2 linked regions of the Homo sapiens genome follow. The protein of the gene in region 1 interacts with the protein of each later gene in a biochemical or structural test. Each region holds a gene or a part of one and is shown in the gene's direction. Other genes may lie near its edges.

Region 1 (7,035 bases):
TCAAGCGATTCTCCTGCCTCAGCCTCCCGAGTAGCTGGGATTACAGGCATGCACCACCACACCTGGCTAATTTTGTATTTTTCAGTAGAGACGGGGTTTCTCCATGTTGGTCAGGCTGGTCTCAAACTCCCGACCTCAGGTGATCCGCCCACCTCAGCCTCCCAAAGTTCTGGGATTACAGGTGTGAACCACCGTGCCTGGCCCAATGACTGTGTTTCTTTTCTTTTCTTCTTTTTTTTGAGACAGAGTCTCACTCTGTCGCCTAGGCTAGAATACAGTGGTATGATCCCGGCTCACTGCAACTTCTGTCTCCCAGGTTCAAGCGATTCTTCTCCCTCAGCCTCCTGATTTAGCTGGGATTACAGGCATGCACCACCATGCCCAGTTAATTTTTTTTTGTATTTTTTAGTAGAAACAAGGTTTTACCATGTTGGCCAGGCTGGTCTTGAACTCTTGATCTCAAGTGATCCACCTGCCTCGGCCTCCCAAAGTGCTGGGATTACAGGCGAGAGCCACTTCGCCCAGCCTCTTTCTGTTTCACAACACCTGGCATTTACATTTTTCACAGCCTTGTTCATACCTTGTGGTGGTTACCTGTTTCCCTACCCCTCTGCTAAGTAGTTTGTGAGCTTATCAAGAGTGGAGACTAAGTCTGATTCATTTCACTGTCCTCACTGCCCAGCCCAGTATCTTACTTAGTAGCTACCTGGTAAGTCTTTCTTGAATGGATAAGTAGGAGCCCCTCTCCTGTTTGATCTCCTTTTCTCCTCTCTTTTTCCCCTCTCTCCAAAGCCAGGAAGTCGCTGTGTTCCCTTCTTTTTAAGAACCTATTCTTGTGTCAGGTTTGGGACTATAGTTGTGGTTGCACCATCCCTGCTGGAGACCCCTGGCTGGGGCAGGCCCATGACTCTGGGAGATGGCTGACCATGTGTGGCCAGGATGGACTTGGGCATAACTGGCTGGAGTGTGTTAATCCACAGGCTTGGGGGCAAGGAGGGACACCTGGACCACTGGAATGTTGTGCACAAACAGGAGTCCTTGTGCTGCGCATGGAAGCTCATTAAGGGCTTCCAGGTGTCTTTGTCATCTCTAGAAATCCAGCCACATTTTCCTGGGGTGTGGGCCCTGATGATGGGACTGGCTGGGTATTCCCTTGTCACCTCTTCCTCCCCTCCTGTCCCGCTACTCACCTGGGACTTTCTGAGGGTCTCTCAGTTGTGCATAATCTCTGTGCTGATCTCCTCCCCTTCTGTGATTGGCGACAACTTCCCCTAGTATATGGTACGTTATTTACAAAGCTTCTTTAGGTCCTGAAACTCCTCACAGCTCTGTCCGGTAGATCAACATATCCCCCATTCTATAGGAAACTGAGAGTGATAACAGACAGCAAGTGTGTGGCAAAGCTGGGGTTGGAACCCAGAGCTCTTGCGTTCCAAACCTTGTGCTTACAACTTTGCCAGAGATGCTTCTCCTCTGGCTTTCTTAGGGGATGGGTTCCACCCCTTGCTTGAGCTGGGGAAAAATGGCCTTACGGATAGGTGGGCCCCTATGTCTGGTCTCTAATACCCCAGATCCTATAAATCCCTGGGCAGGCCTGTGTCCACAAGGAGCAGGCTTGGGATCCTGTAGTTTGCAGCCTTGTTGCTAGGTCAGGCTGGCTGCTTCTGGTAGCCAGCAGAGGGCGTGAGGGGCCCAGGAAAGGTCTGCTGCTTCTGGTTGGTTTTGTTTTGAAATGAAAATTATGTTTTAAGAGGTTATATGGTCATTATTTTTTTAATTAAAAAATAGGCATTTGTACAGGTTCATTTAAGTTGAACCTTCGTGGTGCCAGGTGTGCTTTGGAATTTAGGAAAAAAACAATTTATAAAACTTACCTGGTGTGTATACTTTGTGTTACATAACACCTCCAGCAGGGTCTGAGGCAGCACCTCATAATCAAACACCTGAATGTTTTCTGCATTGAAATATTTGAATATTTACCCCAAGTGGGATAAATAGATTCTTGTCAGTTCTGGTCAGGTTATGATGCCAAATGAATTAGATAAAGACTTTTGGGCCGGGCACAGTGGCTCATGTCTGTAATCCCAGCACTTTGGGAGGCCGAGGTGGGTGGATCACGAGATCAGGAGATCGAGACCATCCTGGCTAACATGGTGAAACCCCGTCTCTACTAAAAATACAAAAAATTAGCCAGGCATGGTGGCAGGCGCCTGTAGTCCCAGCTAGTCGGGAGGCTGAGGCAGGAGAATGGCATGAACCCGGGAGGCAGAGCTTGCAGTGAGCCGAGATAGTGCCACTGCACTCCGGCCTGGGCAAAAGAGTGAGACTGCATCTCAAAAAAAAAAAAAAAAAAAAAAGACTTGATTTTCAAAGCTTTTTGGGTTTAGTGTAACTTTATAAAAGGGAAAGTGCAATAAAATCGCTGATAACACCAGGACTTAGGGATATTTTGCTGTCTAGCCTTCCCAATTTTGTGTACGTGTGTTTGTATACATACATATGTATATATGTGTAGATATCTGTTAAATGTGTTCAGTCACAGATGAGAACATTGTTTGCACACTTTTGCCTTCTAGAGTATATCTCTTTTTTTTTTTTTTGAGACAGAGTTTCGCTCTTGTTGCCCAGGCTGGAACGCAATGGGGTGATCTTAGCTCACCGCAACCTCTTACCTCCTGGGTTCGAACGATTCTCCTGCCTAAGCCTCCCATGTAGCTGGGATTACAGGCATGCACCACCACGCCTGACTACTTTTGTATTTTTATTAGAGACGGGGTTTCTCCATGTTGGTCAGGCTGGTCTCGAACTCCCGACCTCAGGTGATCCACCCACCTTGGCCTCCCAAAGTGCTGGGATTACAGGTGTGAGCCACCATGCCCGGCCTACAGCATATCTTGGAATCCTCTAGCCCTTTGTCAGGTTCAGGATCTAGGCTCTTGCTAGTTACCCCCTCTTCACCACCTTTCCTAGATGAAACTCCTTGAGGTAGAGCCACATTCTCCACCCAGGCACTTGCTGGGTCTGAGTCTCTGGCTGCCTGAGGCAGTGTGGCTCCCTGGGCCAGGCCCTGCAAGGTCAACAGAAGCCATAAGGCATATGGGGCCACTGTTCTCAGGGCACCTAGGACCCTTTTGGAAGTAAGTCTTAGTTTCACTCAGCAACTAATTCCCTAAAAGAGTCTCCTACTTCACATGCATGGAGTGGTCAAACAGGGCTGAGAACTTTACCTTGGCCAGCGTCCTCTCTGTCAATGATCTAGGCCTCTCGGGAGCTTGAGGTCGGGGCCCTGGGGAGGGAGTACAGGTTTTCCCTGTTGCTGACCCCCACCTCTTCCCTCCAGCAGGAGCATTGGTTTGAAAAGGCCCTACGAGACAAGAAGGGCTTCATCATCAAGCAGATGAAGGAGGATGGCGCCTGTCTCTTCCGGGCTGTAGGTGAGTCTCTGCCTTAGTCCTTAAGGGCCTAGGGCTGCCCCTAAGCTGTGTCCCAGTTATCAGGAATAGCCCCTGAGACAGGGTTGAGGCAGAGCTAGCTAATCTTTTAGGGACTCTAGGCTCCAGCCTCAAGTTGGTATCTGACCTCTAGCCGTGGGTCTTGAGACATTGTAGTGGTGCAAGATTAATATGCATAATAACAGCAAGAAGAATGATAAAGAAAATAATATCCTTTGGGACACATTGTCAGGTGCTACAGGAAACCTCTTTGATTCCCCTCTAAGCTAGGTGAGTGTAGGGACTACTGTTGCTTCCATTTGTCAGATGAGAAAAGTGGCTCAGAGATGGTGGGTGACTTGTCTGGAGTGAAATAATAAGTGGTAGAGTTGGGATTCAGTGTCTGGGTTAGATTAGTCTGAGGCCCATGCTCTTAACCATAGCATACTGCTGCCACCCTGGGCTGTATGACCCCTAGGTTTATACCCAGATCCCATCTCTGGTGTGTTGCGGGTCTCTGTTCCTCAATCTGTGTGTATGGGGGCTATCAGACTAGATCTTTACAAATTTCTTATATCATAGAATTTTTTTTCAACTTATATAAAAGTAGAGAGAATGATGAACCCTCATGTACCCATCATCCAGCTTCAAAATAGTCAATACGTGGCCAGCCTTGTTTCATCACTATCCCGCCCACTCTTTCTCACTCCCCTGAAAGAAGAGTATTTTTAAAGCAAAACCCCGACATTGGATCATTTCATTCATAAATATTTCTGTATGTTTCTCTGACAGATACAGACTTACTCTCTTCTTTTTAACATAATCAAAATGCCATTACTGCACCTAACAGAATTAATAATGCCTTAATACCATCTGTTATCCAGTCTGAGTTAGATCTTTGAGGCCATTTTGGCTCTGAATCTGTGACCCAACAAGTAGTTGTGAGGTCCTGTGCTAGGGTGAAGGGGAAGCTGGGAATGTGACCTGATCCTCCCTGTGGTTCTCTGATATCTACCAAGGAAAAGTGCCCTCTGATAGGAGCTTTGAGCTGGGAGTCAGAAGACCTACCTTCTAGTTCTGGCCCTGACTCATAACTGCTGTGACACTTGGCCTTGGTCTTCCCGTCTGTGAAATGGTGTTGATTCTCAATGCCTCTTTGAGTTCCTTCTTGGTCTGCTATTCTCTCCGTCTGTGGGTACCCCCCATGTCTACTGGTGGGCTGGGGTGTTTTAGGCTCCATCCCTGGCTGCACAACTGATTCTTGGTATGACCTTAGGCAAGCAGCTCTTCTTTCCTGAGGCTGTTTCCTCATCTGTAAAATGGGGCTAAAAGACCCTAATGCTGTAACGATTTAATGAAGTTGCTTTGGTAAATCCCTTTAGTGCCTGACACATATAGTAGACCCTCATGGAACAGTAGCATTTGTAAAACCCAGATGCCATTTTCACTGGTGCCTCAGAGTCACATGTGTTTGTTGAAAGGGTGGAGTGAATGGTCTCCTCTCTATTCTGCCAAGCAGAAGAGGCTCAGGCAATGGGCTCTATTGGACTGGGAAAAAACTTATCCCTCCTACCCCTCTGGCTCAAGTTTGTGTTTTCCCTGGGATGTTTCCCAGAGGAAGAGCTGGGTTTCGGGGCATCTTGGACAAAAGAAAGGCAAAGAAAGAATAGGTGGGGGCCTGTTAGGTGCTAGGCCCTGTGTTGAGACCTCAGGCTAGATGTGGGGTAAGCAGGGCTTCTGGTGGAGTTAGGATTAGAGAATGCAGCGGGCATCTGAGTCTTGGGCAGTCATTGAGGGTAAGCCTTGGGACTGGCTAGTGAGGACCTGGCTTGTGTAGTAACTCATATCAAGAGCCGTGTGTGTGTGTGTGTGTGTGTGTGTGTGTGTGTGTGTATCTAGCTAGCTGTTCTCTGTGTGTGTGTGTGTGTGTGTGTGTGTGTGTGTGTGTATGTGTGTGTGTATCTAGCTAGCTGTTCTCCCCAAATACCCCCGACCCTTGGGGCTAGCTAGTGAGGACCTGGCTTGTTGTAGTAACTCGTATCAAGAGCAGTATTTGTGTGTGTGTGTGTGTCTATATGTATCTAGCTGTTCTCCCCAAATACTCCCGACCCTTCCTCCCACTGGGGCCTTCAGTAAGGGGCCTCTACTTACAGGAAGAGCTGACCAGGGCAGGTTGAAGGCCTTTCCTTATCGGCACTATGGCTACACATTTCCCCTGACTGGGCTGCCTTTGGCTTTTCTCTGTAAAACCTCAGAAGTCCTCTGGCCTCTCCCCCGAAGTACATGGCCCTTGGTCTCTAGACCTTATCTGGAGGTTTCCTTGGTGCAGAGTGCATAATACATGTGCCTGGGAAGGGGACTTTGTCCCTGGGCTTTTTGCTGCCCCCGTTTCCAGCCTCGCCTGGATGGGGACAGATGGCAGTCAGCTTAGACTGTAGTGTGAAGCCCTACAGGCTGACTTCCTGCCATGTGTTGAATAGTGGAAGGAACGTGGAGCAGAGAGTTGGAGTTGGGCGGGGGCTGCAAACATAGAGGGCACTGTTTCCTTGACCCCTGCTGTGTGCTAGGCATTCAGCTGGGTGCTTCAGGCTCACTGCAAAACTTGGATCATTATCCCATGAGACAGGTGAAAAGATTGAAGCATAGAAAGGGAAATGACATGCTCAGGGCCATTAGCCAGAGCTGGCCTGGGAACCCAGAGGTGTCCAAAGGACACGCATTCTTTTTTTTTTTTTTTTTTTTTTTTTTTTTTTTTTTTTTGAGATGGAGTCTCCCTCTGTCGCCCAGGCTGGAATGTGCAGTGGCGTGATCTCGGCTCACTGCAACCTCTGCCTCCCGGGTTCAAGTGATTCTTCTGCCTCAGCCTCCTGAGTAGCTAGGATTACAGGCGTGCACCACCACACCTGGTTAATTTTTGTGTTTTTAGCAGAGATGGGGTTTCACCATGTTGGTCAGGCTGGTCTCAAACTCCTGACTTTGTGATCCACCCGCTTTGGCCTCCCAAAGTGTTGGGATTATAGGCATGAGCCACCGCATCCGGCCAGGACACATTCTTTTTATGATCCTAGGATCCTTAGCTTCTTAGCTTGGTTGTCAACTGGCTGGATGACCTTGGCTGTGTTCCTTGACTTCTCTGGACCTTACCTCCTCCAAGTAGGAGCACGTGGCCCTCTGTTGTTGGGAGTCTTGAGGCAGGTGGCTTTCTGCCTTCTGTTCCCCTGGATTATCTTCCTATAGGGTCCTACCATTTGCTTTAGAGACTTCTGAGAATTGCCTACTCCCCAGGTAGCTGCCTGCCTGCCATTGGTTCCCCTGAGTTAAGCAATATCCATTGCTTGCGCTCAGTTCTCTCCCACCTCCTCTTATTGGGGATTCATGAGCATCATTGAAGGCTTGGGTGGAGTGGAGGTGGGAACCTGAGCCTCAGAGGTATCCTGTGGCCCACCCTGTCCCTGTTATGCTCAGATAACCTCCTCCTGGAAACATGACTCTGCATCTCTCCCTTGCTCCCTCCCTCCATGTGGCTTTGACTCAGCAGAAACCTCTAACCCTGACCAGGGTCCTGGTGCTAGCTTCTGTGGGCAGAGTGAAGGCCACATGGTTG
Region 2 (3,949 bases), on another chromosome or scaffold:
CAGATTCAAAATGTGTGTTCTACACTGTTACAGGCTTCTCTTTTGTTTGATTAAAGATTTTAGTCCTACTTTTGTATGGACACATTAGAATATTCAGAGACCAAAATAGAAGAATTTGCTGTTAGATATTTTTCAGAAGTCAGCAGATTTGTGGCAAATCATTTATTTGCCTTTTTAAAAATTCATTTAAGCAGTTCAGAGAGTAGACTACTCAGAAAATTATTTCACGTAATTGTCTAAGAGGTCAATATTTTTTAATGCATATTGAATCAAATAAAGTGCTCTAAAGAAATTATTATACAAATTCCTTTGGGTTGTTTTTCTTTTCTTAACAAGGGGTGGGGGTAAACAGGAATATGATTCAGGCTTTCTGGTTGTGTATTTAAAGAGTATTGATTTTATTATTACTATTGATTTACTTTATTCCTGGCTTCCTTTTCACTTTTCTTTCAATTTTTAAAAAATAATTTAAGCCGTTGAAAATATACCAAACTGTTGAAACATTTTACTCAAATTTTAAATTCCTAAAAATGTTTTTTAATAAGAGGGAGAAAATTATTTAAAAATACTTATGCCTATGCCAATTTCCCTCTTTTTTCACAAAATCCATGATTTCAGTTTGTAAGTAGACATATATCTAAGGGCACATTTTTGGAAAGTGAGGAATAGCAGCAGTATAACTTCATTTTGTCAGGCCTTTGAGTTCTAATATTTTGTATTGCTCTTCAAATGGATCCTTTTAAAAAAATTGTAGATAATGAGTCATAAATAGATTCTGCCAACTGAGGGGAGAAACATTTTAAGTAAATATTTTTCAGTATTTGGGGCCTTAAAAAATAATTGTGTTTCCTTAAAATTACATGTTAGATAGAGTTTTTAGGTTTTTTTGGTTTTAAGATTGGTTAAAGCAATTTAAAAGCCACTTTTTTGTCAACATTTAATAGCCTCCACTTCTGTTAAGATAATGTATACTGCTGAGGAATTACTATTAATAGCTATCAACATACCACCATTAAATTAAGGTATTCACTTTAGATTTTTTATTAAAGCTTTTTTCTTGCACACTGATCGTTGTGTTTCTAAGCTGATTTTTTCAGCTCTAATATACCTATGGTTAAAAAGTATAAAAACTTAAATTGATATTTAGATATATGTTTTCCTATTAGTTTATGTTTTAAAAAGACAAAATTGTATCTGTCAGTCCCTGAAGGCAGTTTGTTTTTATACTCTCTCACATTTGTATTTGTTTTTTAAATGGCAGTATTTTAGAAGATTTGGAGAAAAGTCCACATAATAATGTTTTCTTAAAAGCTTTTAAAGTTTTTGCTGTACTTCAATTTACTTCTTCCATCAGAAAACTAAGAACAAAGTGTTGCTCAGTCTGTTCCGCTGACCTAAATTTGTGTTTTCAGCACTTGGCTCAGCCAATTCACTGAGTGAAGGAATTGCTTTATGAGGCAAAGCATGTGAAAGTTCTAAAGTATGGTTAGATTGTAGGTCGTGCTCTATATGGAAACATCAAACCATTACTACAGAGAAATGATAAGGCATTGGATCCACTATTGAAATTATTATTTTTGGATCAACAAGTTGGTACTTTCTGACTTCTGTATCTTAACATAAGGGAATTTTAGGTAATGCTAAGTCAGTTGTCTCATTTTTTGTGATAAGTTTTGGAATTTTTAGTTAATTGAAATAAATAATGCTTTTAAATAGAAGTAAAAGGTTTATAAGTGTGCAAATTGTAGATTTATCAATTACCTCAGCAGGTATCCTGCCATGTAATTATTAGTGATTAGTGTTAATAAGATAATAGATTCAGGTCTTCCAACTATGCCCTTGGATTGTGGCCTACTGTATGTTATTAAATGGTCTCTTACTATCCAAAATGGGAGTAGATGCTGTGGCCCCGTCTCCCTTGGCTTTTACGTCCCATATCCACCCCCATTCATGTACAACATGTGAAATATAAAAATCTCATTTCTTGTCAAAATCAGCACTGCTTATTTGCATACTCAGCATCGGATCAGTGAGTAGTTTTATAAAAAATCCACGCACCCAACTCCCTTAGTTAAAACAGATTCTTAATTCATACCATGAATTCTTAATTTCTGTACCATCTATGTTAATGATCTGCTGAAGGTGACTCAAGATTTTCAAGGTGTAATACAGTTTGATCATGTACCGGACCTGGATATTTAATTTTTTTTCCCTCACAGTTAATCTCCTCCTTGATAAAGCAATAACACTGCTTTGAGTCTGTTGCCTAATAGCATGTCAGAATCCTCTCCTGGATGGTGATTTTATAGGAAAGTTTGTATGCATATCACCCAGTCTATCTTTTAAAAATTAAGAAATTTAAATGTATGCTGGAAGTAATGACACTATATTGTGGCATTTTATTTTAAAAATTGGGGAAAGTTGCATATTTTTTTAAAAGTAAGTGTTTGAGTAAAAAAATTGAAGGTACTTTTTTAAGGAAAAAAATTTATATGCCACAGTTTACATAGACATTTCAGATTCAACACGTACTCTTGAATATAATGGTTTCTTTTACTTGGTCAAAATGCATGTATAGCATTTCTTTCATCTTAGTTCCTTGTGTTTGCCTATGTGGTCCTTTATATATTTTTTATTGTATCGAAGAAACAAAACTATCTTCAAAAATAAGTTAATTTGGATATATTTGTCATATCAAACTACAAAGTGTACAAAGTTAAGTTTAGCCCTTTTCTAGAAAGTGATCTTTAAAATTAAAAATGCTCCTCTTTTAAATTCACCAAATTTATGTGTGGGAAGGCACCAAAATGATTTTGTAAGTGCCACTGCAATATTCCCTTTCAAGTGTGGCCTAAATTTCAATCTTAAGGATGGAATGCATGTCTGCTCCTTGTTCTGAAAAATGTAGGCATCTACTACATTTTAAAACACAGTGAAACATATACATAAGCCTATAAAAAAAGATTTGTGCAATTTGAAAGCCTGTTAATTTTTTATGTAGACATACCTACACACGAAAGGGTTAAATTCACAGCCTTACTAGTTCCTTGCTTCCAGTATTTCAATTGGTCTCCTCCCCTCATTATTATTATTACTACTAGTACTATTATTTTTGCACATAGTTAACTGCCCTTCAATATGATTCTTAAAAAGTGCTGTTTCTGTGGTATCGTATTCTCTAAATAATCATATTTAATTTTTTAAAACAAGGTTGCAGTTTCTAATTGTTTCGTTCCTGTGTTTTTGCTGGTGTGTAATAAAAGCAAGTTTTTTCTTTTCATGGTTATTTAATACATTAGCTGCCTGTAAATAATTCTTGTTATAATGCTCTGGAATGTGTTGTAGAAGTTGTATTAGATTAGTTTTAAACCCTTGTTTGAAAGCCACATTGTTTTGGTTATTTCTATTAAATTAGAAAATTGAAAAAGTTTTCAAATGAATTTCTTTTTTTCTTCTTCTGTGAGTTGAAACTTAATCATAGTTTTAAATCATTTTAAAAATTTACACTGTGTGCCAGGCACCAAAGATACAGTAGTGAACAAGAAGATATAGTCGTTGCCTTCACAGACTTTAGACTCTGTGTTAGAGTAATCAATGTTATGATAGGGATTAACAGAATATAATTGTAATGCGTAGGAAAGGATCTAACCCAAACTTTGTTGCCAGGAAAGCAATTTCTTTCACTCATAAAAGGACAGTGGACAAGGAAAAGAGAGAGTGAAAAGAGAATACAACATGTAGAAGACTGAGTGAGAGAGAACATGTATGTATTCCAGGAACTGAAAAGTTAATTAACTGAAAGTTAATCTGAAACAGTGTAAGTTGGAGTGGTAAAATACTACACTCAAAAATTGAGCAGAGTCCTCTTCAAGCAGAGAGTCTTGTAAGTTATATTAAAGGGTTTGGGAATTACGCTGAGGCCAACAAGGAGTCCTTGAAGAATTTTAAG

Evidence for each region. The genes of interacting proteins can lie anywhere in the genome.
Region 2: the proteins of OTUD5 (region 1) and TRIM33 form a complex in vitro, tested with the Homo sapiens proteins (one study listed by BioGRID).

What each region holds. Positions count from the first base shown.
Region 1 is NC_000023.11:48,940,589-48,947,623, reverse strand, and holds part of OTUD5 (OTU domain-containing protein 5), read left to right. Parts: intron 1-3,340; coding exon 3,341-3,434; intron 3,435-7,035. UniProt on the Homo sapiens protein: Deubiquitinating enzyme that functions as a negative regulator of the innate immune system. Has peptidase activity towards 'Lys-48'- and 'Lys-63'-linked polyubiquitin chains. Can also cleave 'Lys-11'-linked ubiquitin chains (in vitro).
Region 2 is NC_000001.11:114,392,268-114,396,216, reverse strand, and holds the end of TRIM33 (E3 ubiquitin-protein ligase TRIM33), read left to right. Parts: 3' UTR 1-3,427; downstream 3,428-3,949. UniProt on the Homo sapiens protein: Acts as an E3 ubiquitin-protein ligase. Promotes SMAD4 ubiquitination, nuclear exclusion and degradation via the ubiquitin proteasome pathway. According to PubMed:16751102, does not promote a decrease in the level of endogenous SMAD4.